Homo sapiens: one gene and its partners. The protein of the gene in region 1 purifies or fractionates together with the protein of each later gene. This does not show direct contact. Each region holds a gene or a part of one and is shown in the gene's direction. Other genes may lie near its edges.

Region 1 (3,863 bases):
TAATCCCAGCACTTTGGGAGGCCGAGGCCGGTGGATCACGAGGTCAGGAGATCGAGACCATCCTGGCTAACACAGTGAAACCCCGTCTCTATTAAAAATACAAAAAATTAGCCGGGTGTGGTGGCTGGTGGTGGGTGACTATAGTCCAAGCCACTCGGGAGGCTGAGGCAGGACAATGCTGTGAACCCAGGAGGCGGAGCTTGCAGTGAGCCGAGATTGCGCCACTGCACTCCAGCCTGGGCGACAGAGCGAGACTCTGTCTCAAAAAAAAAAAACAAAAACAAAAAACAAACACAAAAATAGCTGGGTGTGGTGGTGGGTGCCTGTGATCCCAGCCACTCGGGAGGCTGAGGCACGAGAATCACTTGAACCCAGGAACCAGTGGAGGTTGCAGTGAGCAGAGATCACTGCACTCCAGCTGGGGTGACAGTGTGAGACTGTCTCAAAACAAAAGCAAAACAAAAAAAAATTTCTGATATTAATACAAATTTATTATAGAAAATTAGGAAAAAAGATTTTTAAAAACCCACTCATAATTGCCATACTCAGACAATGCTTGTTGCCATTTTGGTGTATGTCCTTTTAGAGAACAACTCAAAATTGGAATCACTACACATGATGTTTTCTTTTTTTTTTTTAACTTATCAAAAATTAAGAATTATTATGAAGCTCTATTTCTTCAGACAGTCTGGAATAAGGTGCAAAACTGTACAAATTGACCAGCAAAGGAGAAAAGAGAGCCCAGAAGCAGACCAATACAAAAATGGAAATTTTATTCATGACCGAGATGACACTGCAAATTGCTTAGGAAAAGCTGACATTTTTAATAAGTGGCACTGGAACAATTGGTTGTGTGGTTGTGTGAATTTAAAAACTGAAATTGGAACCTTATCTCGCACTATGTATAAAAAACCAAATCCATGTGGATTAAGACTATACAAGGCAAAACTATAATGTTGAGCAGAAAGAGTAAGTTTCCAGCATACACATGTTTTCTAAAGCAAAGAGGATGCAGTTAATAAAAGGGATTATAGTATTGTTGTGAGGCCTCTAGAATGTAGAATCATGATGCCTGGGGAAAGCCTGGTTCCTTCAGTGATTCTGGGACAAATTACGTCACATCTCTGCCTCCATGTTTGCATCTTAAAATGAGATGATAACAGTACCTGTGTTGATAAATGAGAGAATACATGTGAGTACTTAGTATACTCCTTGGCATATAGTAACTACTCAGTATGTTTATTAATATCAAAGCCATGGCATCTTAGACTCTCAGGTCTTGATGGGCCCTAGAGGTCATCTGCCAAAATCCCCTCATTTTACAGGTGCGGCAACAGAGACTCAAACGAATTTTTTAGTAGATTTTTAGTAGATTTTAGATTTTTAGTAGTAATTTTTAGTAGATTCAGATATGTCCTTGCTCCCTCTCTGCTCAGAGGCTACCTCACGAAGCATTCTTGGTTTTCTTGCCTCCCTCTCCTTTGCCAGAAGGAGGCCATGTTAGTCTAGCTTTTGTTGGTGCTCTCATAGCCTTTTTTATGTACCTCTTCTGTAGCACCAATGTAGAGGTTGGATTTATGCCTTTATACTTTTGTCTCCTCTGCTAGTGTGTAACTTCCTCAAGGGCTTGGCAAATCTACTTTGTATCTTCAGAACGAAGCTTCTTGACAACTGCTAAATGAATGTGTTTTGGATGCTGGGGGAGAAAAGCTAACAAGTAGTAGAACCGTATCCAGCTGGTGGAAAGGGATAATTCCATTGTGTGTTATTCATTCATCTTACAAGTATTTGTTGAGTGCTTACTCTGCCAGACAGGGGCCTATACAGGGGATACAGTGCTATGTAGGACAGACTGGCCCCTTTCTTGTGGAGCTTACAATCTAACGGGAAAGACAGACATAAAACAACGAGTTCCGTGCTATGCTTATTATTTTGTCGAATGCTATGGAGGAGAATACGGGTGCCAGGAGAGCCAAGAACAGAGCACCTTGGCTTGACTGGGTGAAGAGAGGTCAGGAAAGGCTCTTCTGAGGAAGGAGTTGGTCAGCCTCCATCTGAAGGATGAGTACAGGGTGGCCAGCCAGAGGGCAGAGTGGAGTCCTGGATGTGGGAGTAGCATGTGCAAAGGAGGAGGAAGGAGCACAGCACATTCTAGGAACTGAAGGAAGACCCGAGTGGCAGAGAGTAAAGCTGAAGCTGGTGAGGTGGCCAGAGGTCAGATTCTAGAAGGCTTTGTTGATCATATTACAGTTTTTTTTTTTTTTTTTTTTTGAGCGAGGGTCTTACTCTGTCACCCAGGCTGGAGAGCAGTGGCATCATGGCGTCATCACGACTCAATCCAGCCTTGACCTCCCGGGCTCAGGTGATGCCCCCAACTTAGCCTCCAGGTAGCTGGGACTACAGACATGCACCACCATGCCCAGCTAATTTTTGTATTTTTTTGTAGAGACAGGGTTTCACCATATTGCCCAGGCTGGTCTCGAACTCCTGGCCTCAAGCAATCAGCTCACCTCAGCCTCACAAAGTGCTGGGATTACAGGCATGATCCATGGCACCTGGCAATATTACAGATTTTTTAGTTCAGCCTAAGAGCAATGGAAAACCTAATGGGTTTAACTCTGAGTACTTGCTTTTAGAGAGATGTTGACATAGGAATAAAGGGTGACCAAGATGATAAAGGATCTAAAGTTGTGTCCTGTTTGAAATATTGAGTCCAAAGAAGAAAGAAAAGAGAGTTATGTGATATATGAAGGAATGTTATGTGTTAAGAGGAAGTAAGCTTGTTCTGTGTTGCTGCAGAAAGTATACCTCAGACTATTAGGTAGATGTTCAAGGATGCAGATCTTGCATAAATGTCAGAGACAGCTTCCTGATTCCTAGAATGGGTCATGAACAGAATGGGCTGCCTCATGGGATGCAGGAGGTGTGCAGGGAGAGGCTGCCAGTCCACCTGCCCGGGACTGTCAGGAAGTCCATGTATGGCGGGAGTGGCCTTTAAGAGTTTTTGTGCTCCAGGAGTCCTGGGTCTGTAAATCAGGTGAAGTCTGCACATTTCATACTGTCTTGCAAATGATTCAACAAACCTGAAACTTGATTTCATCTCTTTCTTTAATCTGAAAATTCATAAACTTGAGATTTTGTAAAAAATAAATTTGTAAGATGGAATATGTCCGTTTTTACTTTATTAATATTAGATATTTGAAGTTGTATTTAATTACTTAGGTAAAAGAATCCTTAGGGAACAAAGAACTGTTGTTATTGGTAGGTTAGTCTGAAGCTGACAGTCATGGCTAAAGAAAGCCGACATGTAAAACCAAGTCATTATTTCAAGCAAAGAGGAAAATAACATATTCTGAGAGAACCCAAAACTCCAGAATAACAAGCACTGGCTACTCAAGGGATGCTTTTATATTCATTTGTAAATCAGAAAAGAAGGCCAAAGAAAATAGAGGAATTGGATGTTCCTTCTCCTAGGGGAAGTTTGGACATCATGCATTTAAGCACATTCCTGTAATGGAAATAAGAAGCAACAGGCAAGAGATCCCTAGTGCTGTGTAGCCTGTAATCCGCAATCAGGCAGAGACTCGGGGACTCAGAGACTCGAAAGGCAAGGGAGGTAGGAAGTAATTGTGGTAGAGGTGATGGATGGAGCAGCATTCTCATTTGGAATGGGAACAGGGCGTAGGAATTTTCTCCAGGCCGTCTGAATCTGGAGGAGCAGCTTGAGAGGAGAGAATGAGAGAGATCCAGGCGCTAGGGTAGAATGGTAATGAATGTTTCCGCTTCCTGGGCACGGGCTGAGATGCGCATTCCCCCTCGCCCCTCTCTCCTGTGCGGTCTCCAGTGTGCTTTGTTGGTGGAGA
Region 2 (4,605 bases), on another chromosome or scaffold:
CTGTCTCAGCCTCCCAAGTAGTAGCTGGGACTGCAGATGCATGCCACCACGCCTGACTAATTTTTGCATTTTTAGAAAATATGGGGTTTCACCATATTCGTATTGGTTAGACTGGTCTCAAACTTCCGGCCTCAGGTGATCCACCCACCTCGGCCTCCCAAGGTGCTGGGATTACAGGTGTGAGTCACTCCCCAGCCTTGAGTATCTTTTATGTGCTTTTTGGCACTTTATGTATATTTTTTGGAGAAATGTCTATTTAAATCCTTTGCCCATGCTTTAATTGTTTGTCTTTTTGTTGTTGTAGTTAGGATATGCTCTGGATAACAACCCTTTATCAGATATAGAATTTGCAAATATTTTCTCCCATTCTGTAGACTGTCTTCACTTTTTTTTTTGAGACAGAGTCTTGTTCTGTCACCCAGGCTGGAGTGCAGTGGTGCGATCTAGGCTCACTGCAACCTCTGCCTCCCAGGTTCAAGCAATTCTCCTGCCTCAGCCTCCGAGTAGCTGGGATTAAAGCATGCGCCACCATGCCTGGCTAATTTTTGTATTTTTAGTAGAGATGGAATTTCACCACATTGGTCAGGCTGGTCTCAAACTCCTGACCTCATGATCCGCCCACCTCAGCCTCCCGAAGTGCTGGGATTACAGGCGTGAGCCACCACGCCTGGCCTGTCTTCATTTTATTAATACTGTCTTTTGATACACAAATGTTCATTCCGATGAAGCCCAATTTATCTAATTTTTCTTTGATTGCTGGTGATTTTGGTGTCATTATCTAAGAATCCATTGCCAAGTTTTACTTGGTTTTGATCTCTAGAAGACTGCCATCATACTGAAGGTAATCTTCTGAAACTTGCGGTTTTCTTTCAAAAATTATGTTTATAAGATGATCCATGTTCTTGCAGAGTTTATTCATTTTATGCTGTATAATATTCCATTATATCCACATACAATGCAGTATTGACCCTTCCTCCTGTTGATGGGCATTTGTCTTGTTTCTAGTTACTTTGCTATTATATCAGTGTCACCATGATTATCCAAAAGTAATTCTTTTGTACACTCTAATTTAAGAACAACTAACCCTTTTTAATGAATAAATCAACCTTGTATTGAGTTGCTACTAAGTTTCAGTTGACTAGTACCTGGGATACACACAGGTGCAGACATTTGACTGAGACATATTGATTTTTCTCATCTGCCTATTTAGGCTAATCACCAGACTATAAAACCATGAGAACCACTGCCATTGAGTATAGTCTGTGTCAGTCTACACTATAGCTTTAACTAGTTGTGTGATTTCTTGCAAAGAGCAATCAGAGAAGACACAATAAACACATTTACTGATTTCAGGCTGGAGAGCTTTTAAGCAATAGGGAGATGGCCACACACAAGGTGGAGAAAATTACTGTGAAAAGGAAGTACTTTCTTTAGAGCCCCACCTAAGCTAGGCTGCAGAAATGTCTACAATGGGTTTGAAAAAACTCAAAATGAGCCTTTCTGCAGTGTGAAAATCCTCCAAGATAAAGAGACAGATTGATGGTTCCTGCCGCCGCCCTGTCCTGCCCAGTTGCTGATTTCAGGAAATACTTTGGCAGGTTTGTGGGTCATAGAGTTGCCAGGTTTCTTGGGATTTGTAATAGAACATCACAAGAAAATCAAGTGTGAAGCAAGAGCTCAACTCTTAACAGGGGTATTGTTTGTGGTTTTGTTACTGGAAAAGATAGTGACCTTACCAGGGCCAAAGTTTGTAGACACAGGAATTACGAAATGGAGAAGGGGGAGAAGTGAGCTAGTGGCAGCATAAAAAGACCAGCAGATGCCCCACAGCACTGCTCTTCCAGAGGCAAGACCAACCAAGATGAGGTGGGTCCACAGCTTTCCCTCCTGCCTTTCCTCTGGTTCTTTATTTCAGTCTTTTTTGCATACATCGGTAGAGATGCAGAAATAGAACAAAGAAACGGGCAAATGGGCTAAATTATAGTGAACCAAAGGGCTTAGTGTGTTAAATCTTCTCCTTTTCTGCATCCATAGAAGACAGTGCTGCTGTCTTTCCCAGGAGATAAGATTTACTCTCAGGAGTGTCTTTTTCCTTCAGGTTACATTTTTGACTTTATAGGGTATGTCATCAGCTCCCGTGGTAGGCTTCCTGGCATCCTGAGTATATTTATTAGCAGATATTTTCCTCTTTAAAAATGTACAATAAGGAAGACTAATAGTAACACATTTGAATGACACAATTAATTGACTAGTACCTGGGATACACACTAATACCTGGGATACATCTAATTAAGGCACTTAGATCTTATAAAAATAAACACTTTTTGAAATGTTGAAATAATAAGACTAGAAACTTTTTTTTTTTTTGAGATGGAGTCTCGCTTTGTCACCAGGCTGCAGTGCAGTGGCATGATCTCGGCTCACTGCAACCTCCACCTCCCAGGTTCAAGTGATTCTCCTGCCTCAGCCTCCCAGGTAGCTGGGACTACAGGCGTGCGCCACTATGCCCACCTAATTTTTGTATTTTTAGTAGAGACGGGCTTTCACCATGTTGGCCAGGATGACCTCGATCTCTTGACCTCGTGATCTGCCTGCCTTGGCCTCCCAAAGTGCTGGGATTACAGGCATGAGCCACCGTGTCTGGCCTAGAAACTATTTTAATAGAAGCAAGTAGTGCCCGAATGGTTGGCATTTGTTAGTGAGATGGTGAACTGGCAGACGGCACCTGTGGGTCAATGCCCATGGCCACCGTCCTGCTTTTGGACACCAGTTCTCTTCCAGGTAACCTTCTGGCATTTTGGGGTTTCAGATACCATTTCCTAAAGGTGAATTATTATAAAATACTAGAAATACCCACGTGTTTAAAATTATATATTTAAGGAACCTTTTATTACGGAAAATATCAAGAAGTAGAGGAATAGCACAGTAAGCCCAAAGTTCCCATCTCTGAGTTATCTACATTTTATTACCACTATCTTTGCGGTGTCTGAGGGAGGTTTCTCTTTCCTGGAGGGCTCCTGTATTATTGCCAATGTACTTTCCTGAATGCAGCCAGAAACTGAGCCCACCCCTCCACCTATGTGCCTTTCTATCCCTCTCTGAAGCTTCTGCAGAATTCCCAGCAGGACAGGGCTTGCTGGAAGCTTGGTATGCTCAGAAGCTGCTAAAGTGTGTATGGGCAGGTGTGGGGGCAATTTCTTGGTCCTAGCACTTCCATATATCGACTTTCTTTTCTGGCTGCTAAGTGGGAGGAGTGTGTGTGTATGCATGTGTGTGTGTGTGTGTGTACATGCATGTGTGTGTGGATGCATGCATGTGCTGTGAAGCAGGGAGACTAGCTTTCCACTCCTCCTTGTCTTCTCTCTGCAGTGCCCTGGGAGCTGTCATTGCCCTCCTGCTCTGGGGACAGCTTTTTGCAGTGGACTCAGGCAATGATGTCACGGATATCGCAGGTCAGTCTTTGGTTGGGTAGGAGTGTGCATCCCACTCTGACCCTCTCGGGTCTGCACTCTCTCTGAGAACACCCAATTCCCCCTTCTTATCTCGACCTCTGGGCTTTCAGGACCATAAAGAACATTGGGGTTCCTGCCAGAAATGAGGGGAGCTTGCCTTTCCATTGGCTTCTATTCGGGGTGGAAGGAGATTGATGTGCAGAGCAGCTCCCGCTCATCTGACTTTTCACGGTTCACTGGGAACAATTTCCAAATAGCAAACTCTCTGGCTTCTCTCTCTTTGCAGATGACGGCTGCCCGAAGCCCCCCGAGATTGCACATGGCTATGTGGAGCACTCGGTTCGCTACCAGTGTAAGAACTACTACAAACTGCGCACAGAAGGAGATGGTAAGATGTGGACAACTGTCTCCATGCCCTACATACAACCCCCTTCTCTGACATTTCCATGATGGGTGGTGCTGAGGTGATTCGCCAGAAAGTTCGTTGCTCTCCTTGGAGCCAGGAGATTTAGATTCTAATAAGCGTTTTGTCGCCAGTAGCCATGGCCCTTTGGGCAGACTAACTTTTGTCAGCCTCAAGTTTTCTGTTTTGTTAAGGGGAGGCGATGCCATGCAGCCTACCTCATGTAAATCTCAGAGTCACATTTACATCTCCAGCAGATGTGGGAAAAGAAGGAATGCTGATGATGATGTCACCCTCACCTAGTGAGTCTTGCTGTCCTGGCACTGCTCTAAGGGCTTTATACTTATTTGCTCACTTAGTCCTCACAGTATCCCTCTGAACAGAGTTTATTGTTTTCACTTTGCTGATAAGGAAACTGAGGCACAGACAGGTTGAGTATCTTGCCCAAATTCAGGCAGCCTGTAAGAGGCAGAGTCAGGATTTGAACCCTGAGCCCTCCCTGTACTGCTTGGCTGTGACCGCCATGACCACAGTGTGTTCTGCTGGGCTTAACTGGTGTCCAGGCACTTGGCTTCCAGCACAGCACTCTTTCCCTTCCTCCTTCTCATATTCTCTCTCCTTTCTCCCTTCCTGTCTGCCTCCTTTCTTCTTCTTCTTTTTAATTCTTCTCCTTAAATGCCTTCTCACTCTGCTCTGGGTGCAGACTTGACTTTTCCTTTGGCTCATTTCTTGCCTTTTGTTTCAGGAGTA
Region 3 (4,598 bases), on another chromosome or scaffold:
CTAAGAAGGTCAACTTCATGTCAGTAGATGCAGTTCAGCCTCTGATAGATATGAACGTGAGGACCCTGAATGAAGATGATGGAAGGACCCAGCCAGAACTGTGGGGTCCCAAAAAGTCCAGCTCAGGCTGTCAGCCCTTCAAAGTCCAGAACAGCCCTGGCTAAATGTAGCTCACCACAACTTCCAGTTCAGAGGTCGGCAGAGGGTGAGTACCTTGATCTGATGGGAACAGCCTCAGGTCAGTGGAGGATGGAGTGCCCCAAGACTGGCCAGGTGTCATGGTGAGGACCCTGAAGAGAAATAAGAGAACTGTTATAGGACCAACGAGTTTCTGTGTCAGCTGCAAAGTAACAGACCCACTATAATAAAACAGCAAAGTTTGCAGCAAAGAGTTTAATGATTGCAGGGTGCCAAGTGAGGAGATGAGAAGAGACTCTCAAATTCATCTCCCCAAGGAGTTCTGGGCTGGGATTTGCAAGGAGATCATGGAGGGCGAGGGGCTGGAGAACTGAGGTTGTTGATTCGTTGGGGTAAAGGGGATGAAATCATCAGAATGTGGAAACTGCGTTTTTTTTTTTTTAGTCAGCTCCTGTGGGGTCTTTTGGACCAGCTGATGTCAGTAGGGTCCTTTAGAGCAGCTGGCATCAGTGGGGTCCTTCAGACCAGCTGAGTCATTAGAATCATCAGTATGCAGGACCTTAAGGAATATCTCAAAGAAAAAAAGTTTCATTATGTTAAAATTGTTATCTATAGAGCAATTAAGGGCAACTATAATCTAGTAACAGGATCTACATGATTCTGGGATAATAGGCACCAAACTACTATGAGGAAGCAGGTCAGAGAGCAGCTGACTTCATGATTAATGCTGAATGTTCTGCAAGCTTGGCGTATCTTCATTTATCTCCCTTCCCTCTTCCCTGATTAATTTTATACAGTTCATAGGGGCAGTTTCAAAACCACCCACCCCAGAACAGAGGAGCCCACAAATTCCACCAATGCTGTCACCCTTGGGGAGCCCAGAAGAGAATTATGAGGTGGAGAAATCCCATCAATATGCCTCGTGTGTTTCACAGAGGTGAAGACCTTGGACTAGTGGAAATGGCCCTAGGTCAAAGAGACAAAACCCACGCCCTAACAGGAATCAAGGTGAGGATCCTAAGTGTTACGAGGGGGCTCTCCCCCTTGCAACACCAGCAGAGGGGGCCAAACAGAGCCCCTCGCCATTGTTAGCACCGAGAGGCCCCAAAATAAGTATCTCTGAATCCCCTTCATTCCACCTGTATAGTCTCGGGGAAGGAAGGGCCTTTGTCTGAAGAGGGTGACCCCAGTTGTGCAGAGAGAGAGTCTTGGCTTTCACGGGAATCAAGGTGAGGACTCTGAGGGCGGATGAGAAGACCTCTCCCCAAAAAAGGCACATTCACAGAGCCCTGCCGCTGCTGTCAGGCCTGTGAGGCCCAGGCAGGGGTGGCCTGTTTGGCACGCTTAGATTTCCACAGTGGGGGCTGAGGGAGGTGGGGGTATTGTTTGGAGGCTGGCGGATTTGGGTCAGCACGCATATTCGTCCCAGGCTGCTAGATACTGAGGTGAGGACCCCTAGTGGAGACGAAGGGACCAGCAACGCTAGAACAGTGACGTCCGGTAGCGTCCAGCCGTCAGCCCTCAGACGCCACGGGCTGCCGGATGTGAGTCATCCTGACTTCCGCTTTGAAAAAAAAGACCCGAGCGGATGTGGCTCATCCTGACTTCCGCTTTGGAGGCGAGGACCCGAGCGAGTGTAGGGGGTGCGGCGTCTGGTCAGCCAGGGGTGAATTCTCAGGACTGGTCGGCAGTCAAGGTGAGGACCCTGAGTGTAAACTGAAGAGACCACCCCCACCTGTAACAAAGAGGGCCCCACTAAGTCCCGCTTCTGCATTTGGTCCTGAGAGGCTCCGGTAAAGCCGTCCGGCAATGTTCCACCTGGAAAGTTCCAGGGCAGGGGAAGGGTGGGGGGAGGGGCAGTCGCGGGGGAAGGAGGTTTGGACGCAGGGAATAGGCCTCATTCTGCACGTAGGGTGGGTGTAGGCCCTAACTGAAATCAATTTGAGGGCCCTAAATGTGGACTGAAGAGAACATCTCCTACCCTTAACAAAGGTGGCCTCACTAAGTCTCGTCCCTGAAGACGGCTCTGGGAGGCCCCAGCAAAGCTGTGCCTGGAAAGTCTCAGGGAGGGGAGGGCCTTGAACCTAGGAAGCAGCCCTGCTTCTGCTCATATGGCATCAACCTAAAACCTAACTGGGGTTAAGGTGAGGACTCTGAGTATTAATGAGCGGACCTCTACCCAAAAGAGGAGTCATGCTGGGCAGTTCCCAGGCCGAGGTGACACTGGGTTTTAGATGGTCCCAGGCTGACATGACAAATGCAGAGCAACCTGACTTCCTCTCCCGGGACTAAAGAAGTTGAGGGCTACATCCAAGACCCACATCTGCTGCCAGCAATAGGAAGGTCAGGGCAAAGCTAGCAAGCTGAGATGCTCTCTAGTTTCCTCTGGAGGTGGTCTCAGGGAGGTGAGGGTCTTGGTGTAATGGGGTAGGTCTAATGCGACAGAGAGGCCCAGTCTCTAACAGGAAGCAAGGATGTGACACTGAGTGATGAGGAGGGGACTCCAACCAGAAAGAAGTGCCATATAGAGCCCACTCTTGTTGTCAGACCAGGGAGACCTGAGCATGGCATGTTGAGTTGTACTCACTCTCCCCAAGACATCTCAGAGAAGTGAACGACCCCATTAAAGAGGGCAGCCTGGCCGGGCGCGGTGGCTCACGCCTGTAATCCCAGCACTTTGGGAGGCCGAGACAGGCGGATCACGAGGTCAGGAGATCGAGACCATCCTGGCTAACACGGTGAAACCCTGTCTCTACTAAAAATACCAAAAAAAAAATTAGCGGGGAGCGGTGGCGGGCGCCTGTAATCCCAGCTACTCGGGAGGCTGAGGCAGGAGAATGGTGTGAACCTGGGAGGCGGAGTTTGCAGTGAGCCGAGATAGAGCCACTGCAGTCCGGCCTAGGCGAAAGGGCGAGACTCCGTCTCTTAAAAAAAAAAAAAAAAAAGGCAGCTTGAGGTCAGCAGAGGGAGGGTTTCCAGGTTGTGCCAGATGTTATGATAAGAACTCTGACGACTGCAGGGGGCTCCCACCCCATATTAGTGGGAGCCACACAATCCTCAGTACTGTCAGCTCTGAGAGACCCCAGGCAGAAATGTGAAACAGAGGTGCCCATCAGTTCCCACTCAAGGGTAACAGGGAAATGAGAGTTTTAATCTGAGGGTGGTGATCACTTGTCAACAGAAGTAATGTACTAATTGGTCCATTCTGGCATTACTATAAATACCCAAGACTGGGTAATTTACAAAGAAAAGAGGTTTAATTGGCTCACAGTTCTGCAGGCTGTACAGGAAGCATGATGCTGGCATTTGCTCAGCTTCTGGGAGCAGGGCTCAGGAAATTTACAATCATGGCAGAAGGGGAAGGGGAAGCAGACATGTTACATGGCCAGAGCAGGATCAAGAGGCCAGGGGAGGCGCTACACACTTTTAAATGACCAGATCTCATGAGAAGTCATCGTTAAGGGGAATGGTGCTAAACCATTCATGAAAAACCTGCCCTCATGATCCAGTCATCTCCCACCAGGCTCCACCTCCAACATTGAGGATTACAGTTAGACATGAGATTTGGTGAGGATACAGATCCAAACCATATCAGGGAAGAATCTTAGACCCTCTCATGAGTCAAATTTAGAGGCTGAGTTGGGACTGTATGTGGGACCATCTATCACAGGGCAGTTATCTGCCTGCCACAGCTTTTACTTTTGGGAAGACCACATTTGGTCAGATAAGGCCACCCTCACTTCCTCCTATGGGTTCTCAGGGATGTTCACTCTTACCATGACGACATAGGCCTCAGTTCAATAAAAAGGAGAGCTCCTCTACCAGGAGTCAAATTGAGGAATCTGAGAATTCAAGGAACCACTGAACCCTTAACAGTGGAGACATCAAAGAATCCAGTCCAACCCTTTATTTTCAGCCCTAGAAAGCTCAGGAAAGGGTTATCAGGTTTAGTGTCCCCCTCTCTTTTTTATATAAGATCTAAGAGAGGTGAGATTCTTAGTCTGACGGTGTAGCCACCACTCAGCAGAAGGGGGCTGGTGCCAAGCCCTACATGAAGCCAAGGTGGGGACCTTGAATGAGAGCTGAAGACTCTAATGATTCCAAGACATCAAAGACCCCACTGAACTCTCAGCACTGGGTGTCACTTCTCAGGGTGGTGGTTGAGGCACCCCTTCAATTTCTTCTCATGAGTCCCAGGGTGCTTTGAGGTGTCAAATTCACAGTAGCGGAAGGGAGTGGCTCAGGCCCTGCCAAGACTTCATATGATAATCCTAAAAGTTAACTGATAAAACCCCAAACACCAGAAGACAGGAGGCCGCACTGCCAGTACCTCCTGTCACCATAGTAAGCCCAAGGAAGGGCTGACAGAATGCAGTCTGAAACTCACTGTAGGGGTTCTGTGGTTCTTCTCTGGTGTCTCAGGGGAAAGGATAACCAGGACGACAGGAGCCTTGTGGCTT
Region 4 (3,244 bases), on another chromosome or scaffold:
TAGCTACTCACTGTCTGCCCTTTTGTCGCAGGCTAAATTTGGGAGAAATGGATCTGACTGCCCGGACAAGTTTTGCTTATTCCAGTCTGAAACCAAAAACCTTCTGTTCAATGACAACACTGAGTGTCTGGCCAGACTCCATGGCAAAACAACATATGAAAAATATTTGGGACCACAGTATGTCGCAGGCATTACTAATCTGAAAAAGTGCTCAACCTCCCGTAAGTAGACCCTAGCTAGCATCCCCGAGAAACCACCATGGGTGAAGGTCAAGGTTTGAGGGCCAAACAGCATTCTAGGAACGAACACAGGTGTAAAAATGTTAAGGAAAGATAATATCTCTTTACAGTTCAGGAAATTATAATCTCATTGATAAAATAATTAGAGAATAAAATAGAGCAGTATGTAATAAATTTTTATAAATTTTATAGTACGGATAGTGATGGCACTGTCATGAAATCTTTGGAAACTGATAATCCATTTTATTCAGTAAAATGAAAGGTGCATATATACATATGCATTGAGAAATGACAAAACCAGCCACGTGTGATGGCTCACACCTGTCATCCCACCACCTTGGGAAGCAGAGGTGGGAGGATGGCTTGAGCCCGGGAGTTTGAGACCAATGTGGCCAACACAGAGAGACCTTGTTCTACAAAAATAATTTTAAAAATTAGCCTGGTGTGGTGTCAAGCACCTCTAGTCCCAGCTACTTGAGAGGCTGAAATAGGAGGATTGCTTGATCCCAGAAGGTTGAAGCTGCAGTGAGCTATGATTGTACCACTGCACTACAGCCTAGGTGACACCGAAAGACCCTTCCTCAAAAAAAAAAAAAAAAAATCTGATTCTAGACAGTTACCATAGATGCCAACTATAGAGAAAACAAAATCTCAAAAAAATTCAAGTGTAGGAAAACACATCTTAACCAGGGAAATATGTTGATATTAATTTAATCCCTTAAAAATATTTAGAAGACATCACAGAGTATTGTAAGGCTCCCGGTGATAACTGTGGGATTTCAGTGTGCACAGCTCCCTGTGCACTGCAATCATTCAGATTCCTATTCCTGGTCCCTCACCCAGAGTTGGGGGCATTAGGGATGCTGTTGGTCCAAGGATGGGGGCAGGGCCAGAAATGTCTTTATCGGTAGTTTTCAATGAGAGACAATTTTTCCCCTGAGGGGATATTTGACAATGTGAGAAGCATTTTTTTGATTCTTACAACATAGAGGGTGCTGCTGGTAACAAATAGGTAGAGGCCAGGGATGCTACTAAACAAAGCACAGCCAGCCCCCTGCAATAAAGGGTTATTATCAGGCCCCAAATGTCAATAGTGCCAAGGTTGAGAAACCCTTTTCTGTATTGACAAACAACTCAGGTCACTGTGATGCAGGTCAGGACCACCCTCTGAGAAATATGGCTACAGGGCTCTTCTTGTGAGCAGCCAGCTCAGGACTGCATAGACCACATGCTTCTTGAGGGCAGGCCAGTCTATCCATGCTGTGTCCCCAGCACTTAGCACAGCAACTCACACAAAGCAGGTGCTCAGTAAGGATCTGTGAATGAATGAGTGAATCTGCAGGTGAACATGATTGCAAACAGGTTCACATTCCGGGAGAAGCTAGAGGACCACCAATGTCTTGTGAACTTGAGAATGTGACAGTCGATTCAATCAGAGACAAGTGCAGGGTGGTTGTGTCTCTCAGGCCAGAGCAGGGAAACACCCTGGCTGGTGAGGGCTAGACTCTGGCTCCCTTGAACACCGTAGTCGCTAGGAGTAGGGGAGTGGGAATATGAGTGTGGCAAGCACTGACTCAGTGATGGGAGAAGGGCAGAGAAAACTCTTAGTATTCTCTTTGATTTATTGGATTAAATAACTGGTTTAATGGAAGAAATCAGTTTCTGAATCTCTTGCTCTGTTGTGTCCCACAGCCCTCCTGGAAGCCTGTGAATTCCTCAGGAAGTAAAACCGAAGAAGATGGCCCAGCTCCCCAAGAAAGCCTCAGCCATTCACTGCCCCCAGCTCTTCTCCCCAGGTGTGTTGGGGCCTTGGCCTCCCCTGCTGAAGGTGGGGATTGCCCATCCATCTGCTTACAATTCCCTGCTGTCGTCTTAGCAAGAAGTAAAATGAGAAATTTTGTTGATATTCTCTCCTTATAAAGTGTCACTCATCTTTTCTAGAATTTTATACTGAAATCACATGCCTGACAAAATACCTGTACAGTTGGACCTTCCCTTCCAAGTTTTTCAGGTCCAGCCCCTCCTCTTTCTTGCAGTCTTGGGTATGATGCCCAAGGGTCTGGAATTTAAGGCCAGGCCAAGCACCGGTTTTCCTAAGGGGATCTTGTTGGTTATTCACATAGCTGTCTCAGTGCACGTGCATGTATGTGCCTGGGAGTGTGTGCGTGTCCCCAAGGCAGGGCAGGAAGAGCAAGCATAGGAATTATAACTGAAATGTAGGTTCAGTTGCTCATCACTTGCAGAGTCTAATTAACAAGAGCTAGGTTTGGTATAAAGTGACTTTTATTCCAAAGCTACCTTAGGGGAAGAAGTACAGGCTTCTTTCCTTAAGGGTAACTGCTTCACCTTTGGAGCAGAAAGCAGAGGCTTTTAAATGGGGGGCGTGGCATGCAAGGCAGGAAGTGAGCAGGTAGAGGGTCTGGGTACTGGCTTTGGTGCCTTGTCTACCAGGCAGTTGAGTTGGTTACTGCTGGTGCCTTTGTGGGCAAAACTAGGTTGTAAAAGCAGCCAAAAAATTTCCAGATGGGAGAGTTTCATAGCGGGCATATTTTGGCTTGTGAATTGACTGTTATGTCTCAAGGTAGTCTCTTGGTGGGAGAGAGTTCTGCTCTGTAGCGTCTAACTAAGAGCACATAGTTAGATGAACTTGCCCTGTTGGGAGTGTCTGGTGAAGGGGAGATAAAAGATTATAATTGCATTTCTAAAGAGCTAAGTAGGAAGCAGAGAAAAGGAGAGAGAAGTGAAGACAGAATAATTTTAAATAATGAAGAGAGAAATGAAGAAGGAATAATTTTCCTGCTTTTCCATTGGTTCTTTGGACATAACAGGCAAAAGTGTCAATCAGGGTGAGACTGTTCCTTCAAGGGCAGAGATCAGACAAGTGTCCTGAAACTCTGCCTCCATTGTGGGGGCAACCATTTGGCCATGTTCCCCACTGTCAGTGAGATGAATAGCTCTGCTGCTGCCTGCAAAAGCCTCTGAAACCTGTCAGGAAAGGACATTAA
Region 5 (3,863 bases), on another chromosome or scaffold:
GAGTTTGACCTTCTGTATCCTGCCATCAAGGGTGACACCATTCAGCTCTACCTGGGGGTGAGTGTCCCAGGACCTTGAGGGTGAAGTGGGGACATTGCTGCCCTTCTCTGACCACCAGGAGTCAGATAGCATGGGCCTGTGTTAGGAGAGAAAATCCTGGTCACCATTAGGACACGGGCTGATCTAGAAAAATCACTGCAGGCTGAATATGTCCCATGCAAGTTTGTTTTGTTTTGTTTTTTTGAGACTGAGTCTCACTGTCACCCAGAGTGACATGGGGGGGCCCGAGTGGGGACACTGGGCCCTCAGCCTTTCTCTCAGGCAAGTCCCTGCCAATCCCCAAACCTATGACAACCTTGAAACAAAAGCCAAGGATCAAGAAACACAGACCTAAGTTTCTCTCCTAGCTCTATGATTCCCTGGCTATGTGACTTTGGGCAAGTTCCTTTACCTCCCTGAGCCTCAGTTTCCTTGTCTGCAAAATGTCAGTAATAATGGCCACTGAGGAGAGGATGAAATGAGACCACACCATGCCTGGCAGACCAGAAGTGCCCAGTAACTGTCAGCTCCCTGTCCAATGTGGAGCTGCACAGCCATGCTGTGGCTGGACGCCCCAAAGGGCCAGACCATCCTGGTAGCATGAATCCCAGACTAGGTTTCTTTTGTTTTGTTTTTTTGAGACTGAGTCTCACTCTGTCACCCAGGCTGGAGTGCAGTGGTGCCATCACAGCTCACTGCAGCCTTGACCTCCTGGGCTCAAGCGATCCTCTCACCTCAACCTCCTGAGTAGCTGGGACTGCAGGCACTCGCCACCACGCCTGGCTAATTTTCTGTATTTTTTGTAAAGATGGGGTTCCGCCATGTTGCCCAGGCTGGTCTCAAACTCCTGGGCTCAAATGATCCTCCCACTTCGGCCTCCCAAAGTGCTAAGATTACAAGCATGAGCCAACACGCCTGGCCCCTGGACTAGTTTCTATGGATCCTTTGGAAAACTGCAGCATCAAATCGTTTCTTCCATTTTGTTGTAGTTTTTAATTTTCCCTCCATCCAAAGGGTTTGAGGTGTCTGAGAAGTTGAAGCATGGGAAAAAAAACGAAGATATCTGGTACAAAAAATAAAAGTCAGAGATTATCCGAGGGGCAAAGATGGAGTAGATGTTGCCACACACCTGAGCTCCAGGCTAAGCTTCCTGGCAACAAATGCACAAAAAGGAAACAGGCTGAATGGTGTCATTTCCTTCTAGGTTGCTATTGGGTAAGCTGCAGAGTTAAAATTCTTAGCTGACTCCCTGCTCTGTCTCCTCAGGCCAAGTTGTTGGACTCACAGGGAAAGGTGACCAAGTGGTTCAATAACTCTGCAGCTTCCCTGACAATGCCCACCCTGGACAACATCCCGTTCAGCCTCATCGTGAGTCAGGACGTGGTGAAAGCTGCAGTGGCTGCTGTGCTCTCTCCAGAAGAATTCATGGTCCTGTTGGACTCTGTGGTAAACCTCAGCACAAGGCAGAGAATAGGGCCGCCCAGGCCACATCATAGGAATTTCCTGAACACAGGGTGCCCCTAAGCAGGAATCCTCCATCAGGCTCAGTTTAATGGAGATCTCACTCCCTCCTCTAATAGACCCTGCCTCTGACATAGCTCTAAACCTAAAATCCTCCCGGTAACATCCAGCCCCAGTCATGGTTCTACCCTCTGGAATCTGATGCAAATGTTTCCTCTACCAAATAACAGTCTCGTGAAATCAAAAGGCATCTTAGATATGCAGTAGTCCAGGGGTGATAAATACATCTCAGATAGTGAGTAGTCCAGGGATGGCGACTGTGCCACTGCTCACCACTATGACACTCATGGCAGACATCACTAATCGATCAAGGCTCTCCTTTCTACTGAGTCTGGATGCTGACACAACCTTGGAATCCTTATTAACAGGGCACAGCCGATAACCACCACCAGTCAACTATGTTGTGCCACCTCCTCCCGGGTGACTGACGGGGAAATTGAGGTCCAGAGGGGGAAAGGGTTGGTCCAACGTTATGGGAGGATGGCAGAACTTCAGGGCAGCTGACAGACAACCAATAACCAAGCTCTCAGGGGACTGGGATGGCGAGAAAATAGGGAGTGGTCACCAACTAGCCCATTCATGATTGCAGTAAAAATGAAATCACCTCTCTATGTCCTCTGAGATCAGGAAGCTGCCCCCAGACCCACAACCATCACCAGCCCACAGTAAAAGTCCAGGCCAGCAGGACCCCATGCCCCATAGAAGCTGACCTAGGGGCTGTTTTTCCACCAATGACAGACACATGGCTTGGGTCACTGGGCCCACCCAGCTTTTCTGGGGTCCTGGGAAACCTTCCTCCCAGCAGTGGGGTGCAGGAGATGTGCCTCCCTGTGCCCTCCAACTGACCTTCTCTGGCTCCTCTCACCCTCAGCTTCCTGAGAGTGCCCATCGGCTGAAGTCAAGCATCGGGCTGATCAATGAAAAGGTTGGTCTGTTTGCCATCTGCAGCTTGAGGGGTGTTTGCTGTGGTCTGGACACAGGCCTCTGGGGAGGAGAATCTAGTGGGACTAGTGTTTCATTCCAGCACTGGGACACTCAAACCGCATCCCTGTCCGCACAGAGATTTCAGTCTAGCAGGCCAGTTTGACCTGAAGCAAATCATCACATGGATAGTATTTCCATTACAGCTGCAGTAACACAGGACAGGTTCTAGGGGCCATGAGAACACTCTGGGCCCCTGATACAGTCTGGGACGTCAGGGAGGCCTCCCTGAAGGGAAGGGCATTCCAGACAGAGGGAACAGGAGACCAAAGGCTGCCAGGTAGGGAGAACAACACAACATTCAAGGATCTGCAAGAAGGACAGGGTGGCTGGAACACGTGAGGGAGCAGGGAGCCCAGGAAGGCAGGCAGGGGCCAGGCCACACACAGAGCCTGTGGGCCATGGTGGGCACTTGGGAGGCCACATGTGGGTCTGATCTCCTTCCAGGCTGCAGATAAGCTGGGATCTACCCAGATCGTGAAGATCCTAACTCAGGACACTCCCGAGTTTTTTATAGACCAAGGCCATGCCAAGGTGGCCCAACTGATCGTGCTGGAAGTGTTTCCCTCCAGTGAAGCCCTCCGCCCTTTGTTCACCCTGGGCATCGTGAGTTCAGTTGTCTGCGATATTGGCAGCAACCAGGGGGACCCTTCTGTCTACTTTTCCTGTTCGCCCTCTTGCTTTGTTAAACATTTCCACCACTCTCATCACTTAGCAGGGACAGGGGACAGGGAGCTCTGAACCAAGAGCCAGGAGCTTTGTGGGTCCAATTCTAACCCTGTGACTTTCTTAGTCAGGAATCTCTGGACAGAAACTCAACTCATATGCACAAAAGGAATTGTATTAGCTCCTATAACTAAAAAGTCTAGATGCTATTGACTTCGGGAATAGCTGGACCCAGGTGCTCAAACAATATCCTCTTCATTCTCCTCTCTCCCACCTAGCAGCCTTGTTTTCCTCTGTGCTGCCTTCATCCTCAGGCAAGCTATTCCCTCATGGTAGTGCCCCAGGCTGCATTAGGCTCATATCCTATCAGCTTGGCAATCACCGCAGGAAGAACCTATCTTTCCAATAGTTCCAGCAAACATCTCAGGGCTGACTCTCACTGAATGAGCCTGAGTCAGTTGCCCATTCTTGAGCCAATCAGTGTGTCCAGAAAAATGGAATATGAAAACTTCCTGAGCTGGGCCACCTACACACTAGGGTAAGGGAGTGAGGGCTCTATGAATAGTGGCTGCTTTCGTCGTCGTCATCGTCATCATTATCATTCCCCACAGCAAGCCTAGACTGTCATCTGTTAAATGGGGAGTGGAGGCAAGTAC
Region 6 (4,296 bases), on another chromosome or scaffold:
TCATCCTGTGCCAATGAAGAAAAATGGAAAGGCCATCGCCTGCTGTGCACACATATATGCACACACACAAGAACATATATACATGTACCTCCCCATCCCAGGAAACAGTCCACTTGCATACACACATGCACCTAACACCACACACTCACAGACCCACAAACACTCAGTAGGCCAAGCCCACACATGCATACATGTACACAAAACTCCCCACCTCTGTGGTCCTGTTGGATTGTGTGAATAGACACACAACACCATAAACCAAGATGCCAACGTGCCCATTTCATGTCCACACTCACACATAAGAGCACACATTTTCCCCGTACATGTGACTATGCACACACACTCACATGCATGTATCAACACAACCCTCATCCACACATGTGCATATGCAAATTCCTTCATGCGCACACACAGTTCCTTGGGTCCCATCCAGCCAAGGCGGAGGCTGACGTTTGTAATGTGGAAAGAGACCGTGGACTAATCCATTGTGAGTGGAATGTGCATTTGGAGAGAGGCTGGGATGTTAAGCTGTGGGGACAGGTCACGCACACTTTCTCTTCTGTTCCCTTCTGAGTTAGGGCTCAGTTTGTGACTGGGATCAGGGCTCAGCATGTGATCAGGGTCAGAGCTCAGTAACTGGGGTCAGGACTCAGTGTGTGAATATGTGACAGGGTCAGGGCTCAGTCAATGACTGAGGATGGTGCTCAGGTAGCCTTCTGCCCCTCCTAAAAGGGTCATGTTTCCGAGAGAGCTTGGAGGTACCAGGCTTGAGGGGTCATTGCAGCCATCCCCTTGCCTATGGGAGGGGGGATGGGGTCCTCATGGGCCCCATCCTCCCAGGCCTTGGCTGGGCATGATAAGATACCCTCCTAGAAGCAGCTTTCCTTCCAGAGATCTCCTGGCCCTCACTAAGGCCATAGCTGCCTAGCCCCAGGGGCTTGTAGTGGTTGGGAGCTGGGCCTGGCTACTGGCTACGTGGCAGCCCCAGCGCACATGTGGGATGAGACACTTTGGCAAAGGCCATGTTTGCAGGGAAAACACTTGCAACCACAAGCAAACTCGCCGCTCCCTGGGTCCCTTCCCAGTGGACTCTGCACATTGGGAGCCTTATAAAGTAGCCTCTGCATCTGCCTGCCTCGGGCAGAGGAGGGCTACCCTGGGGCTGAGAGTTCACCTGTCTCAGGAACCACCTGAGGTAGGCATGGGGCTGGGCTGGTACACCACTTCCAAGGAGGCTTGGCTTCTCTATCTGTTCAGTGGGGATGCTACCTCCAGCCACCCTCTGCAGAAGGGTCCTTCCACCCCTGGCCTTGCTGTAGGACCTGGGCAAGTGCCGCCATCCTGGGTCTCAGCAGACCCACCTGAGCCGCAGTCCCTCACTCCTGCCTGGCTCCCTCTCCCTGAGTCAGACACAGATCTGCCTATTTGGCCAGACTGAGTCAGGAGAGGATGGGGGCCATGTGAGAGGCCTACTCTTAGGCCATTTACCACCTGGCCAGGAGGGGATGAGGACAGGAGCCACCCTGGGTCCTCCCCTGGCTGAATTTGGTGGACAGCTGGACACCAAGCTGGCTGTCACACGGGGCTGGACTCCGGCATCAGGTGATACAGTCCTGGGCATCTTCTTGGGACAGGAAACTACCCTCAGTCTCCCCGTTTGGGAGTCTCACCATCCTTCTATGCCATGGCTTGGGTCCTGCACCTGGTCCCAGTCCACTGTGTGGCCCTAGGCAAGACCATTTCTTCTCTGGGCATTGCGGGTCATTTCCAGAAGGGACTCCCCCATGATTCCTGATGAAGCAAGCAAGGCAAGGTGATGGTTCCCAATGCAGAGATGCAAAAACTGATGTCTGTGGGCCTGGGGCAGGGCTGGGATCACCAGTCAGGGCTTGTTCCCTCCAGGCTGGAGTGGGGTTCGGGTGGCTCAGGGGTGGGCTGTTTTGGCTGAGCTCCCTGATGCTCATTTCTACCCCAGCCCACAGATCCTGTGGGCAGCGGCCAGGGCAGCCATGGCTTGGGCAAGTAGGCTGGGCCTGCTGCTGGCACTGCTGCTGCCCGTGGTCGGTGCCTCCACGCCAGGCACCGTGGTCCGACTCAACAAGGCAGCATTGAGCTACGGTAAGCGGTGTGTTACCCAGTGAGTGTCTGTGAGCCTGTACATGCGTGTGCAATCCTAAGTGTGTGTGCGTAGCTGTGAACTCAAAAGGCCCATGAGGACCCAGATTTTAATTGGAAGTTGTGTCCCTGGCACCCAGACAGTGCCTGACACATGGCGCTGCTCAACAAATGCTTATTACATAAATGCGTGAGGGGGGAGTACGTCATGTGGCCAGTGTGCAAGTGTGCACATGTGACTTGCTCACATGCTTTGGTGATGTGGGCATAGGTCGGTTTGAGGGGCTATTTTTACCTGTGTGTGTCTACTTATGAGTTTGAAATTTCATAGAGCTGTGCCCACGTGTGTACTTAAGTGTCGGGGAGGGTGCAAGCCCATGATGCTGCCTGGATGTGTGTGCACAGGTACGGCTGTTCACCCTGGGTGTACACGTTTGCGTATGTGGTGTGTGCACGCACGTGTGTTCTTGGGAGAGGTCTGTCTAGCACCGTGATGCAAGGAGTGTTCTAAAGTTATATCCCTTCTGAGCTCAGCGTGAGAGAACCATCCGCTCTCTGGGTCCCACTTGTGCGAGGGCTCTGTCTTACGGCTGTGCTGCTAGATCCTTCCAAGTCTTGCCCCAATCCCCTAAGGAGGGCACAATGAAGAAACTTAGCCCCAGGGAGGGACAGACATTGCCAAGGTCCAGGACGCCAGCACAAACATGTTTATTCACCTCGAGTTGCCTCCCGGTGAGAATTTGGTTTCCCACCAAAGCCAGGAGATCAGAAGCGGTTTCCCCCAAGGCCAAACTCAGATTACAGTGTGAGAAAGTCAGGTCAGACAGTAGATGGGACCTTCAGTGGCCCAGGACATGAAGCAGTGGCTCAGGGAAGTAGCAGGTTTCCCCCACCCCTGGGTAAACACAGCCTTCCGGGACCTCATATCCGGGCTGATGGGCAGGCAATGAAAGGGGTCAGTGATCCGTGCCAGAGCATGACATGGAGCCATTCATGGATGCCTGCAGGTAGGGCCATGAGGCCCGCGCCCTCCGCCGCCTTCCTGCCCTCTGCCCATCCTGTGCAAGCCTCCTTTGTCCCCAGGGAGCCCTCCCCAGCTTGCCTGCCTGTGTTTGTTTTTGGCAGAAATCTGGCTGGAGGCCCACGCTGGACGCATTGCTCCCCAGGCTGGGCTGAGTGGCTACTTCCAGTGTCCTCCCCACCCCATCCTGCAAGCCCCAGAGTTCAAACCCTGCGTCAAGGGAGCACTGTAGATGGAGTCTGAGGTCTGGGTGTGAGTTCCAGCTCAGCTGCAGATGGTTAGGTGGGAGAGGGGTGCTGGGAAACATGGAAACCACCGCCTTTATGCTTCTTGTTGGGGGAGACTAAGAACCAGAGAGGTGCAGGGACTCCTCAAGTTCCCACAGTGAGTCTGAGCAGTGGGCAGGCCTCTTGACTCCTCATTTGAAGCTCCCTTCCAGCACCATCACCTCTTATTCTAATTCAACTCCTGCTTAATTAGCACCTCTCTGGGGCTCAGCAGCACAGGTGAGTGAGGATGCCCAGAGGCTCGGGAGCCAGGTCCCTCGGTCCAAAGCCAGCTTTCCCTGGCCAGGTGCCCTCACCTCTCTGTAAACTGGGCACGATAACAGGAAAAGTAAAGCACTCAGAACAGGGCCTGGCACTACAGGATCACAACATAAACGATTGCCGCTATTATTACAAAAATAAATAGCAATGGTAGAAGCTAGCATTTGCTGTGCACTGAGTGTTTACAATGATCCTATGTGACAGATACCATTAGAATCATTGCAGATGTATAGATGGGGAAACTGAGGCACAGAGTAGCCACACAGGCAGTGAGTAGCAGTGAGCACTGCGGTTTGAAACCAGGATCTGAGAGACTCTTGAGTCCTCAGCCCCCAGGTGAGGCTGTCCCCTCCCCTCCCAAGGGACGTCCCCTCTGCTCCCATGGGCGCCTCCACAGCAGGCCAGGGATGACTGGGAGATGCCCCTTCTGCTTGGGAACTTAGGGAAGGCTCCCAGAGGAGATGGGATCTGGTTGGAACCTTGCAAGAGGGCAAAGGATTTTGTTGCTTTTGAAGGACGGGGTAAATCAGCAGGATTTTGAGAGGCAGAGTGGGAGAAGGAGGTCATGCCCAGGTGGAGAGAGCCTGATGCGAGTGGTGCACCCAAGGTGGG
Region 7 (4,381 bases), on another chromosome or scaffold:
GACAGGGCTATGCCTTCAAAGAGCCAAGCAAAGAACTTTTCCTGCATTTTCCCACACAGACACTTCCTAGATTCTTCTGCCTTATGCCTGCCTTGGTCAGTGTAGCTAGGATGTGCTTCAAATGGAAATTATGCAAGTGAGAAGGACCAGGTGTAAAGACAATTTAATTGTGGGAAAAGGCTTACAAAGGAAGGTCATTGTGACCCTCACAAGCAGTGTTCTTGAGTGGATAGGACATAAACAGGGAAGAAAGCATGTGATCATGAGAACAGCTGAAGTTCTGAGTGAGCAATGACATGAATGGTGTCCAATTCAAAGAAAAGAGAAGGTAGATCCAGGAGCTGAATAAACAGACAGAGCAATTTTGAGAGATACATCCAGAAAGCAGAAGCACACACTTACACTTTAGCTCTGAATCCTGGCTAAAGCAACATACAGAGGCGGTAACTCCTAGAACTCTGATTTTCACTCTGTTGCCAGAGAGGCTCTTCCTGGGCAGCTGTGTGCCATGCAAATGATAGAAACAAATCCCATAGTATTGTAAGTCATAGGTTAAGGAGCAGATTTAATTTCATAAGGAGAAATAACACAATGCCAGTGTCAGCAAGAGCAAGTCTCCCCATCATCCCAAGGAGAGGAATTCTACAACCTGGGTATCTACTGGACATAATGTGGGCTCCATTCTCACAGAAGGAATCCTTTCCACTGTGGTTCTTCCTGTGTGGCTTACGCATGAGACAAGTGTAAGAAAGTGGCCATGTCAATAAGAAAATAAGCCAGCTCTTTGGTGCCAAGAAGTCTGATTTGGGGGTGCCAGCTATTTATAGGAATTGTCTAGAATTAAAATATCACCCTGCCTTGGGGATTGTGGGGCAGCTGGGGATCTTGGACATCTGCAGTATATTGCAACCACACCTGAAATTAAGAAGGACTCAATGACAATAAACATCTTTACATCACCCAGTGTCTTGAACTCACTTCCCCATCATGTAGAGCAGCTCAGGTCTTCTCTAGCTCTTCCACCTCATGATGGGTAGTGACTGCTAGGGAAGTCCTGATCATCCTAGCCCTCCAAGAAATGTTTTGAATAGCATTGCATCTTGAACTCACTATAATTTGATCAAGCAAAGATGTTCTATGTCTCTGGTCTGAAACCTGCCACCACAGCTGTGTTCTCTGCTTTCAGAGACCAGGGGAGCAGTGACTGAAGCTAAGACTACACATAGCACTTCAGACAGGCAAATTAGGAGGGAAAAGAAAACTGAATCTGTAAACTCGGGAAAAACTGGTGTATCTTTTGAGGTCCCAGCCATTTTGAGAAACTCTGATGCTGAAAAAATAAGGAAGAACAATCTGACTCCTCTCTCAAACGCTGACATTCTAGCTGAGTGTTGATTTTTTCTTAGAAAAACAAACTTTGGGTCAACAAGGAAAGATCACGAGTGGGGAGGGTGAATGGGTGATTCACCTCATGGATCTCCCTGGCAGCTCTTGCACTTCCTTGATCAATCTGTATATAAGAAATGTGCTGGGCACCTGGGACACCACTTCTCTGGGACACATTGCCTTCTGTTTTCTCCAGCATGCGCTTGCTCCAGCTCCTGTTCAGGGCCAGCCCTGCCACCCTGCTCCTGGTTCTCTGCCTGCAGTTGGGGGCCAACAAAGCTCAGGACAACACGTGAGCCATGCCCTTCTCCTCCCCACAAAAAAAATTGCAGGGAGGGCTCCTCTCCCAGTCTGGAAATTACATATCTCTTTCTGAGAATTTCTTTCAACTTCCCAGAACTCTAGTCCCAGGAGCTCCCATGGATCTCCTGCCAGGTTCCACTTCTTGTCCTCTTAGGAAGCCCCACCAACTCCTCTCACATTTTTGCTGGGTGTTTCTGCATTGCCAGTGGAAATAAAGCTCCAAATGTACCTACAGGCTGTAATTAGTAGTTAGTCTTCATCTAACATGCTGATCCACATCTTGTTCATAATTTATACCTTTGTTCAGATTTCTGCTCAGTAAACTTTACCTTCTCACACCTTGCCTCCTAGAAGAGAAGCATAACAGGTCTGTGAATTCCAATGGCAGCTTAGGGCAGCTTTGGCAGGACTGGCTAAAGGACCAGAGGCCCTGGCCACTGCCCTGTGGTCTGAGATTGAGCTAGACTGGCAGCTTAGACATTCTTCCTAACCTGAAGTCTGAAGATGAATATGATGACCTCTTGCTCTCACGTATACTGGGACCTGAGAGCACAGGTTCAGAAGTCAACTTATTGAGAACACATGTGTGAAGGAAGCAGAAAAATTGGAGCAAGTAAAATAAAGTAGAAAATGGAGCCAAGGGTCTGGGAGAAAGCAGCGATACCCAATCTAGGGAGTTTTCTCTATAGCAGTAGGGTTTATAATGCTGGGTTTCTGGGTTGTGATCTTGGAGGTACTCTCTATGGCATGGTCAGATATCCTGTCCTGGAGGAAACTGTTCAGGGTTTTGACAAGCTAATGTAATGGAGGCAAGTGTCCCAAGAAACCCTGCATGGGGACAGGTTCAGATCCCACCCCATTCCCGCCAGATGACAGTCCACTTAGCCCTGAAGGGCAGCAAGGTATTCAAATAAGCTATGCTAATTAGGTTATCAACCATCCATCCTGATTTGCCCAGAACTTTCCTGGTTGTAGCACTGCAACTCTGCCCTCCCCCGCCACCTCCACAACCCATTCTGGAAAAGACCTCAGTCCTGGGTAAACTGAGATGGTTAGTCACTCGAACTAAGCTGGTCATCCTATCAATCTGAAACTCATATACAAATGGGAGAGATTTTGAAGTTGCTTAGGTATTTATACCCTTTTCCTGTGCACTGGGCACTACAGCAGTTGGCACCAAAAAATAGAATCTCTCTAAGATGCTTTGCCCCAAGAAAATGGGGCTGTGAGACACTGTGGGCTAAGAATCTCAATTCCCTTCTGTCCCACACAATAACAAAGGTCCGTAGCCGGGAGTTTCTAGGGACGAGAAAATAACTCTCCTGGCCCCGAACCCAGTCCTCATTGACTGAAGAAGAACATTTGACCATTTTATTTGTCTCCATTTCCTTTCCTTTTCAGATTGCAGTGTATGGTCTAAATGTAGAGTAGTATCTAAAGTTCCCAAACATGGCCATATGTCCAAATTTCCTAAGGAGCTAAATAAATACAAATTCCTAAACCCTACCTGGGGACCACAGAAGGAGGATCTTCAAAGATGCTCCTACAAATACCTCCAGTGCATTGAGATGTTTGCTGGGTTTTTAAAATTTTTTATTATTTTATTTTATTTTTCCATAAGTTACTGGGGTACAAGTGGTATTTGGTTACATGAGTAAGTTCTTTAGTGGTGATGAGATTTTGGTGCACCCATCACCCGAGCAGTATACACTGCACCATATTTGTAGTCTTTTAGCCCTCACCCCTCTCCCACTCTTCCCCGCAAGTCCCCAAAGTCCATTGTATCATTCTTATGCTTTTGAGTCCTCAAAGCTTAGCTCCCACATATCAGTGAGAACATACGATGTTTGGTTTTCCATTACTGAGTTACTTCACTTAGAATAATAGTCTCCAATCTCATACAGGTCACTGCAAATGCTGTTAATTCATTCCTTATTATGGCTGAGTAGTAGTATTCCATCATATATATATATATATATATATATATATATATATATATATATATATATATACCACAGTTTCTTTATCCACTCGTTGATTGATGGGCATTTGGGTTGGTTCCACAGTTTTATAATTGTGAATTGTGCTGCTATAAACATGTGTGTGCAAGTATCTTTTTTGAATAATGACTTCTTTTCCTCTGGGTAGATACCCAGTAGTGGGATTGCTGGATCAAATGGTGGTTCTATTTTTAGTTCTTTAAGGAATCTCCACACTGTTTTACATAGTGGTTGTAGCAGTTTACATTCCCGTCAGCAGTATAGAAGTGTCCCCTGATCACTGCATCCACGCCAACATCTACTGTTTTATGATTTTTTGATTACGGCCATTCTTGCAGGAGTAAGGTGGTATCGCATTGTGGTTTTGATTTGCATTTCCCTGATCAAGAGGTTTGCTGGTTTAATGTGATTCTGTTGCTAGAAAATTTTCTCCTAATAATGACTTGAGCCCTCCTACTCAGTAGACAACCACCAGAGCCTGTAGGATGTTATCAGGAAGTGGCATGTGGTATTGTACATTTTTTCTTTTTAAAAACTTGTTTTTGGTCAATGGAAGGGAAGAAGATGCTCGTTCATTGATGGGCATTTGGGTTGGTTCCATGATTTTGCAATTGTGAATTGTGCTACTATAAACATGCATGTGCAAGTATCTTTTCTAAATAATGACTTCTTTTCCTCTGGGTAGATACCCA

Evidence for each region.
Region 2: the proteins of DDX31 (region 1) and HP purify together in Homo sapiens (affinity purification with mass spectrometry; 2 studies listed by BioGRID and IntAct, with this or other methods). This does not show direct contact.
Region 3: the proteins of DDX31 (region 1) and MAGEB2 purify together in Homo sapiens (co-immunoprecipitation; 2 studies listed by BioGRID and IntAct, with this or other methods). This does not show direct contact.
Region 4: the proteins of DDX31 (region 1) and LTF purify together in Homo sapiens (affinity purification with mass spectrometry; 2 studies listed by BioGRID and IntAct, with this or other methods). This does not show direct contact.
Region 5: the proteins of DDX31 (region 1) and BPIFB1 purify together in Homo sapiens (affinity purification with mass spectrometry; 2 studies listed by BioGRID and IntAct, with this or other methods). This does not show direct contact.
Region 6: the proteins of DDX31 (region 1) and BPIFB2 purify together in Homo sapiens (affinity purification with mass spectrometry; 2 studies listed by BioGRID and IntAct, with this or other methods). This does not show direct contact.
Region 7: the proteins of DDX31 (region 1) and PIP purify together in Homo sapiens (affinity purification with mass spectrometry; 2 studies listed by BioGRID and IntAct, with this or other methods). This does not show direct contact.

What each region holds. Positions count from the first base shown.
Region 1 is NC_000009.12:132,663,125-132,666,987, reverse strand, and holds part of DDX31 (ATP-dependent DNA helicase DDX31), read left to right. Parts: intron 1-3,570; exon of another isoform or gene 3,571-3,616; intron 3,617-3,661; exon of another isoform or gene 3,662-3,763; coding exon of another isoform or gene 3,764-3,766; intron 3,767-3,863. UniProt on the Homo sapiens protein: May have DNA helicase activity and RNA helicase activity. Probably have ssDNA and RNA dependent ATPase activity. Plays a role in ribosome biogenesis and TP53/p53 regulation through its interaction with NPM1.
Region 2 is NC_000016.10:72,052,792-72,057,396, forward strand, and holds the start of HP (haptoglobin isoform 1 preproprotein), read left to right. Parts: upstream 1-1,713; 5' UTR 1,714-1,861; coding exon 1,862-1,866; intron 1,867-3,369; coding exon 3,370-3,452; intron 3,453-3,738; coding exon 3,739-3,840; intron 3,841-4,600; coding exon 4,601-4,605. UniProt on the Homo sapiens protein: As a result of hemolysis, hemoglobin is found to accumulate in the kidney and is secreted in the urine. Haptoglobin captures, and combines with free plasma hemoglobin to allow hepatic recycling of heme iron and to prevent kidney damage.
Region 3 is NC_000023.11:30,213,822-30,218,419, forward strand, and holds the start of MAGEB2 (melanoma-associated antigen B2), read left to right. Parts: upstream 1-1,741; 5' UTR 1,742-1,834; intron 1,835-4,598. UniProt on the Homo sapiens protein: May enhance ubiquitin ligase activity of RING-type zinc finger-containing E3 ubiquitin-protein ligases. Proposed to act through recruitment and/or stabilization of the Ubl-conjugating enzyme (E2) at the E3:substrate complex.
Region 4 is NC_000003.12:46,434,917-46,438,160, reverse strand, and holds the end of LTF (lactotransferrin isoform 1 preproprotein), read left to right. Parts: intron 1-31; coding exon 32-221; intron 222-1,931; coding exon 1,932-1,966; 3' UTR 1,967-2,516; downstream 2,517-3,244. UniProt on the Homo sapiens protein: Transferrins are iron binding transport proteins which can bind two Fe(3+) ions in association with the binding of an anion, usually bicarbonate. Lactoferricin binds to the bacterial surface and is crucial for the bactericidal functions.
Region 5 is NC_000020.11:33,299,928-33,303,790, forward strand, and holds part of BPIFB1 (BPI fold-containing family B member 1 precursor), read left to right. Parts: coding exon 1-57; intron 58-1,305; coding exon 1,306-1,485; intron 1,486-2,431; coding exon 2,432-2,485; intron 2,486-2,988; coding exon 2,989-3,147; intron 3,148-3,863. UniProt on the Homo sapiens protein: May play a role in innate immunity in mouth, nose and lungs. Binds bacterial lipopolysaccharide (LPS) and modulates the cellular responses to LPS.
Region 6 is NC_000020.11:33,006,566-33,010,861, forward strand, and holds the start of BPIFB2 (BPI fold-containing family B member 2 precursor), read left to right. Parts: upstream 1-1,138; 5' UTR 1,139-1,195; intron 1,196-1,975; 5' UTR 1,976-2,009; coding exon 2,010-2,118; intron 2,119-4,296.
Region 7 is NC_000007.14:143,130,534-143,134,914, forward strand, and holds the start of PIP (prolactin-inducible protein precursor), read left to right. Parts: upstream 1-1,543; 5' UTR 1,544-1,583; coding exon 1,584-1,678; intron 1,679-4,381.